Linked DNA regions of Homo sapiens. The protein of the gene in region 2 interacts with the protein of the main gene of each other region in a pairwise test. Each region holds a gene or a part of one and is shown on either strand. Other genes may lie near its edges.

What was found.
Region 1: the proteins of RNF216 (region 2) and KIR2DL4 interact in a two-hybrid assay, tested with the Homo sapiens proteins (one study listed by BioGRID).

The regions. Positions count from the first base shown.
Region 1 is NC_000019.10:54,802,066-54,805,982, forward strand, and holds the start of KIR2DL4 (killer cell immunoglobulin-like receptor 2DL4 isoform c precursor), read left to right. Parts: upstream 1-1,544; 5' UTR 1,545-1,586; coding exon 1,587-1,626; intron 1,627-1,825; coding exon 1,826-1,861; intron 1,862-2,727; coding exon 2,728-3,012; intron 3,013-3,885; coding exon 3,886-3,917. UniProt on the Homo sapiens protein: Receptor for non-classical major histocompatibility class Ib HLA-G molecules. Recognizes HLA-G in complex with B2M/beta-2 microglobulin and a nonamer self-peptide (peptide-bound HLA-G-B2M).
Region 2 is NC_000007.14:5,712,086-5,715,902, forward strand, and holds part of RNF216 (E3 ubiquitin-protein ligase RNF216), read right to left. Parts: intron 3,106-3,817; coding exon 2,968-3,105; intron 779-2,967; coding exon 630-778; intron 1-629.

The DNA.
Region 1 (3,917 bases), on a different chromosome or scaffold from region 2:
CTGAAGTTTGTTTCTCAGATGTAGGAGCCTTTGGGCAGAGACTATGGGGTTTCTAGGTATAGAAATTATCTCATCTTCAAACAGAGGTAATTTGACTACCTCTCTCTGCTACTCTCTTCTTACTTGGATGCCTTATAATTCTTTCTCTTTCCTGATGGCTCTGTCTAGGACTTCAAGTACTATGTTGAATAGGATGGTGAGAGTGGGCATTCTTGTCTTGTTTCACTTATGAAGGGAACTTCTTCCAGCTTTTACTCATTCAGTATGATGTTGGTTGTGGGTTTGTCACAGGCGGCTCTTATTATATTGAGTTATGTTTCTTCAATGCTTAGCTTGTTGAGGGCTTTTAACATGAAGAAATGCTTAGTAAAAAGTATGTTCTACATGTGTGTTGAGAAGATCATGTGGTTTTTGTTTTTAGTTTTGTTTAGGTGATGAATCACATGTATTGATTGTGTATGTTCAACCAACCTTGCACCCTAAGAATAAAGTTGACTTGATCATGGTGGATTCACTTTTTGATATGCTGCGGGATTCAGTTCTTAGTATTTTTTGTGGATTTTTGCCTCTATGTTCATCAGGAATATTGGCATGTAGTTTTCTTTTGTTTAATGTTCTTTTCTGTCTTTAGTATCAGGGTGATGCCAGCCTTATAGAATGAGTAAAGGCCACCCTGGGCAAACAGTGAGACCCATCCCTTTTTAAAAATTATGAGTTTTACAAATTTAAAATGCATAGTGAAAAAGTTCTTACAAACTCCAGAAAGATAGGTGTAAATAAGAGACATTTGTAAGAATGACAGCACATTAAATGTGTAGATTTCAACCTTCAGTTATTGCAATATTCCAGTATCAAGTTGGAGGATGTTATCAGTCTGATATTTTTTCCTCAAATGAGAGAGAGAAAGAAAGACACACAAACAACACAGGGAGAAAAAAAGCACACGTTACAGAGAGACAAAAAGGGAGACAGGGAACTGTGAATTTGGACTCTTGTGTCATAAGACAAATTCTAGATAACACGACCAGACCTTCAATTGACATATTGTGTTTTTGCTAATAAGGTGGAATTCTATGATGCGAAATAACTATATAGTCTTTTCTACTGGGATTTAAATCATTTTATCTGTTTCTGGCTTAACAGGAAAAATACAACCATGGAAAATTATGATGATTTATTTAATACGATTGCTCTATAGTGTTAATAAAACCTATTAGGTATTTTGCATATTACATATCAAGGAGAGTTTGAATCTCAGGTAGAAACAAAAAAAAATACATCAAATTTCCTCATGTGAGTGCAGAATTCAATCGTCCCGTGCAGGGGTAAGTGAGTCTGAGATGTGTTTTGAGCCTGGCCGTTGCGCATGATGTGAAGTGACAAGTCTAGTCTGCAGTTTTCAGAAACCCTCATTCCTCCCTTGACTGATTCACCACTTGAACCTCATATGACGTAGAAGAAGCCTACCTATGTCCCCTTCACATGTTGTGGTCAATGTGTCAACTGCACGATCCGGGCCCCTCACCACATCCTCTGCACCGGTCAGTCGAGCCGAGTCACTGCGTCCTGGCAGCAGAAGCTGCACCATGTCCATGTCACCCACGGTCATCATCCTGGCATGTCTTGGTGAGTCCTGGAAGGGAAGGAGCACCAGGGTTACACTATGGGCCTGCAGATTGGGTGTCTCCCCAGCAGAGAGCCATGTTCTGAAGCAAGTGAGTGGTGAGGATGAGTTAATTTTCAGTCCAGCGTGGCGCCCAGTGGCTCAGGAGGAAAGGGTAGGTTGCTGCCGAGATGAATAGTTCATCATGATCTTTCTTTGCAGGGTTCTTCTTGGACCAGAGTGTGTGGGCACACGTGGGTGAGTCCTTCCCCAAATGATGGGTTGCCATCTTCACCCCAATACAAGTGAATTTTCCAGAAATGGGAGGGAGGCAGCACAGAGGGTGGGCTGATGGGCTGACCATGGGAAGGCCTGGGGGGAGTCTCTCATGAACTAGTAAGAGGAGATCCTGGGAGTCTCTCATGAACTAGTAAGAGGAGATCCTGGGAGTCTCTCATGAACTAGTAAGAGGAGATCCTGGTATGCTCAGCCCTCTGTTTTGTCTTAGCCCTCCCCAGCCTTTCTTCCCCATGGCTGAGTTGAGCTCTGTGTGGCCCAGGCGGGATACTGAGGTGCTCAAAGCTGGGGTGTGTGGGGGGATGTGGTGTCACCGACAGAGGAGGGAAGGGTAGCAGTGTTAGGAACAGCAGGTCCTCTGAGGACAAGAGGGTAACTCACACCCTCCAGCGTTTCCATGACGGTAGGGGCTGCAGTGTGGCTGCTGTCATTCTGCCAGAAGAGGTGGGGGAACCACAGCCACGACCCTGCCATTCCAAATCCTCTGATGGAGCTCAGTTGTTTATTGTGGTTCAGGCATTAGCTAATATTCCATTCACAAAGGTCATACCCTCCACCCCATGTCTACTTTGTGTTCTTTGGTGTAACTAATCTTGCAGTATTAAAATCTAGTAAGAGTCCCTTACTCAGCACCTGCTCAGTTCTCAACTGACACTTTTGTTGTAGGGAGACGCCACGTCTATGCGGGATGGGTCCTTCCTGTAGCCCCAGGCACCCAGGTGTGGTAGGAGCCTTAGAAAGAAGAAATGGGGAGAATCTTCTGAGCACAGGGAGGGAGGGGCAGCTCAACATACTCCTCTCTGAGGCGGCATCTCCTTCTCCCCAAGGTGGTCAGGACAAGCCCTTCTGCTCTGCCTGGCCCAGCGCTGTGGTGCCTCAAGGAGGACACGTGACTCTTCGGTGTCACTATCGTCGTGGGTTTAACATCTTCACGCTGTACAAGAAAGATGGGGTCCCTGTCCCTGAGCTCTACAACAGAATATTCTGGAACAGTTTCCTCATTAGCCCTGTGACCCCAGCACACGCAGGGACCTACAGATGTCGAGGTTTTCACCCGCACTCCCCCACTGAGTGGTCGGCACCCAGCAACCCCCTGGTGATCATGGTCACAGGTCAGAGGGCTCCTGTCTGGGCTTCTCCTTGTCCCACCTCCTGAGTCCCAGAGCTTCTGGTGGGGGTGTCCACCAGAGTCCGATCATCCAGGCCCCAACTATATTTGGGGTAAAGGGGGATTGAATACAGGGGAATGGGTGCTGTGTTGGAAAGAATAACTGTCCCCATCGATGGCCACATTGTAATCCTTGGAGCCTGTGACTATGTTATAGGGCAGGGGACTGAAGGGGAAGATGGAGCTCAGGTTGTTGATGAGTTGACCTTGAGATGGGGAGATGGCCTGGACTCTCCCACTGGGCTCAGTGTAATCACAAGGGTCCATATGAGTGGAGAAGGAAGAGGAGAATGGGGATTAGAGCAGCATCGTGGGATACTCCACCAGCCACTGTGGGCTTTGAAGGTGGAGGAAGACCACGAGCCACGAAGGGGCTGGAGAAATCAATGGAACTGATTCTCCCGAGTCTCCAGAGGGAATGCAGCCCTGCAGATGCCTTGATTGTAGCCCAGGAAGAACAGGGTCTGATTTCTGTCTCCAGAAGTGGAAGGGGTCAGTGTGTTCTCTCCTGCCGCCATGTTTGTGATAATTTTCTCCAGCAACAACAGGAAACCAACACAGGAACCCAGGTGAAGGACAAGTTAAAAAACCAAACAAGAAGGTTGGCTACCCTGAGATCAGCAAGGGTGCACTGCTGATGCCACCACCAGGCTGGAACCACATAGGGAGGGATCGACAGGAAGAGTTGGGGGTGGAGGGTGAGAGAGAGAGAGAGAGCACTAGGCCATAGAGCAGGGCAGTGAGTTCTCAGCTCAGGTGGGAGGGGAGCTGTGACAAGGAAGAACCTCCCTGAGGAAACTGCCTCTTCTCCTTCCAGGTCTATATGAGAAACCTTCGCTTACAGCCCGG
Region 2 (3,817 bases):
ATGAGAACTCCTTGCATATACCGATTTCCCTCCAGCCCAGGGCACCATGATTGTATCTACGGGCCAGAAGATTTGGGGGTGCCAAGATATGTAGACAGAAGTTTGAGCTACAGTCTGGGCGCGGTGGCTCACGCCTGTAGTCCCAGCACTTTGGGAGGCTGAGGTGGGTGGATCATTTGAGGTCAGGAGTTGGAGACCAGCCTGGCCAACATGGCAAAACCTCGTCTCTACTAAAAATAAGCTGGAATGTGGTGGTGCACGCCTGTAATCCAGGCTACTCAGGAGGCTGAGGCATGAGAATTGCTTGAACTCAGGAGGCGGAGGTTGTAGTGAGCCAAGATTGCACCACTGTACTCCAGCCTGGGCGACAGAGCGAGAATCCACCTCAAAAAAAAAAAAAGAAGTTTGAGGGGCAGATTTTTCCATTAATAGAATTACTGGTTACTCAATGGTTCTGAGGCGTAAAAAATAAAAATAAATAAGTAAAATTATTGATAATCTTATTTCTCAGCAAGAAATGTCAAAAAACCTGGAAGATAAACACAATTTTCATCATCTGATGCAAGTGCCCAGGTAGTTTTCACAATGGGGAAGAGTTGGCAGATGGCACGCTCTGCCTGAGAACGAACCTGACAAGCTCGTCGGCGTAGGCTGCCGCAACCTCCTCCTCGGCTTTTCGCTCATAGTACTTATACAGGATGGTCTGGGGGAGCACCTTCTCCAGCTCACTGGTTGGGAACGAACACGTGCAGCTGCCTTCCATGCAGCTGAGCTCCAACTAGAAAAAGGCGAAAAGGCAAAGAAAAAAAAATCAATACCATTTATAGAAAAATAAAAAGCGTCAGTGGTTAAAAACATAGATCCTGAGACAACATAGCAAGGATCTCTCTGCCTGTTCATCTCTGAGAAATCACACTTAAATCATGGAAACCATGAAACAAAAATCCAGTACATCTTTGATATCACTAAAGGACCTCTATTAGCCCAAATCACAATCCACAAAGACTGAAAGTGGCGGAAGGGCAAATGGCTTAGCAGACCACACACAGAAGCCCATAGCTTAGGGTCTGAAAAGGAGATGCTGGGGAGAAGTTGTTCCCCTCTACAGATATTAGAAAGCTGGAGAACCTCTGGAAAGCAGAGCTGAGTGGTGGGGAGGGGCAGGGACTCAAAGTAATAAACTGAAAACAGGGACATGGGTGGAGCCTCTAGTTCCTACCCGCTTCAGAAGGAATTGGCTGACTCTGAGAGAAATGAGGAAGATCTCCTGAACAGCTGGACCACACGGCTCTGGACTGGAAACCACTCATAGAGGAGAGCAGAGCTGAGGGGTGGCCTGAAGTCAGAGTCTGAAATGGAGTCTGCATAATGAACAGAGAACTCTCCAGACCTTTCCTCCCCCTCAGTTTCAGAATGTTGGAAAATGGGCTCACACCCACCAGGCAGGAGGCAGACTGAATCACCCCAGGTAAGAGACTTCAGAGCCATTCAGGTTCATAATATAAAAGCTAACTGGCTCCTATGCACCTAGAGTCAAACTCACTGGTCTATAAGCCCCACTACTCACACAGCTTTCAAACAGCTCTTTAACATGAACAAAAAGTGTCAGACATGAGGAATGCTTCCCACATGAAAGACAAACACCAAAGAAAACAAATGGAAAAAGACGACATTTTAAAAATAACTAGCTAAAATTTATGAGGCATTTACCATGTGTCAAACAATAAGTTCATTAAACTCATCACCTCATTTAGCTTTCAAAACAATGCTATGATTATTTCCATTTTACAGAGGAAGAAACAGTGGCTTAAGGAATTTAAATTGCTCAAGATCACAGGGCTAGTATGGCTGATGGGGGCATGGCCCAATGCATTCTGCTTGACTCCAAAGGTCACGCTCTTTGAAAAAACATAAACTTTATTTATTTATTTTTCTGAGACAGAGTCTCGCCCTGTCACCAAGGCTGGAGTGCAGTGGTGCGATCTCAGCTCACTAAGCCTCCCGAGTAGCTGGATTACAGGCACCCACCACCACACCTGGCTAATTTTTGTATTTTTAGCAGAGATGGGGTTTCACCATGTTGGCCAGGCTAGTCTCGAACTCCTAATCTTGTGATCCACCCAACTTAGCCTCCCAAAGTGCTGGGATTACAGGCATAAGCCACAGCGCCTGGCCTATTTTTCTTTTTTAGAGATGGAGTTTCACTCTTGTTGCCCAGGCTGGAGTGCAATGGCACGATCTCAACTCACCACAACCTCTGCCTCCCAGATTCAACCAATTCTCCTGCCTCAGCCTCCCCAGTAGCTGAGATTATAGGCATGCGCCACCAGGTCTGGCTAATCTTGTATTTTTAGTAGAGATGGGGTTTCTCCATGTTGGTCAGGCTGGTCTTGAACTCCTGACCTCAGGTGATCCGCCTACCTCGGCCTCCCAAAGTGCTGGGATTACAGGCGTGAGCCACCCGGGCAAAAAGTCATCTTCTTAATCACTGTGTTAGTTTTCTATTGCTGCTGGAACAAAATACCACAAACTCGGTGGTGTAAAACAATGTAAAATTCCCATACTGTGTTTGTTATGCTGGTGTCCAGAGAAACTCACTTTGGAGAGAGAAATATGATCTTGTGTAAAGTAAGTTATGTTATTTTAATATATATTTAATCCAATAGGCTGCAAGGTTCTCTCTTTCTGAGGTAACCTTCCCTCTGAATACAAATAAGATGATGAACGAAGGAGGTGCTCCTCTGCGGCTAGGCGTGGGAGTGTGGAAGAATTCTACTGTGCCCTGAAAAGAAATCTGCTGTGCTCAGAGAACCCACATAATCACATACATCAGGTAATGTACACATAAGCATACCAGCAGAACTCCACCTCACCCTCAAAGAGGCACTTACACTTATCTATCAACATGGTCTCCTTAGACTCCAGGAATGTGTCCTATATACATGGGACATATTACACAGTTCTTACCTTTCCAGATCCAAAGACTGCCTCTTGGGCATATCTGATGAGACACTCTTTGCAGAACAAGTGAGCATCTGCGCACTGCGTCAGCTCCTCGAATGGAAATTCCCCATAGCAGCAGCGACACTCAATCAGCTGGCCATCCTGCAGGCAGTCAAGAAACACACATGAAATGTCCTGCACTTAAGGAGAGGGGGAGCCTTGTCTCCCATCCTCATCTCTCTGCCACCCCCCACACAAATTCTGAGGTAAAGCAACCCATTTTAGGGGCCATAAAACAATGATATGCTGTTTCGTGCTATATAAATCTAGCTCAAGATACTAACACAGTATTAATCCATACCTAAAACAGCGAGGTTTTCGTGTTTTTTTTCTGGTATTCTTTAGAGTAATTCTTTATATAAAGTTATCATATTCAATCCCATGGTGCAAAGGGAACTAGAACATCTGTACTCAGATGCTAATGTGATTATAAACAGCAAGGATAAGGAGTATGAGAGATGTTACCCAAAAAACTTTCAAAAGTTGAATTTTGTTCTTGTCATAAGGAGTGTGAATGGGTCTATCGAGGTCTGCGCTTTATTTTAAGGGACTATTGAAGCTATAACTAAAGCAGCAACCTCAAGTAATGTACCAGGCTATTGACTCCTTTTATTAACTATAGCAACGGATCCAATCACCAACTCATTCTTTTTTTTTTTTTTTTTTTTTTTGAGATGGAGTCTCACTCTGTTGCCCGAACTGGAGTGCAGTGGCACGATCTTGGCTCACTGCAACCTCCACCTCCCAGGTTCAAGCGATTCTCCTGCTTCAGCCTCCCGAGTAGTGGGGATTACAGGCACCCGCCACTATGCCC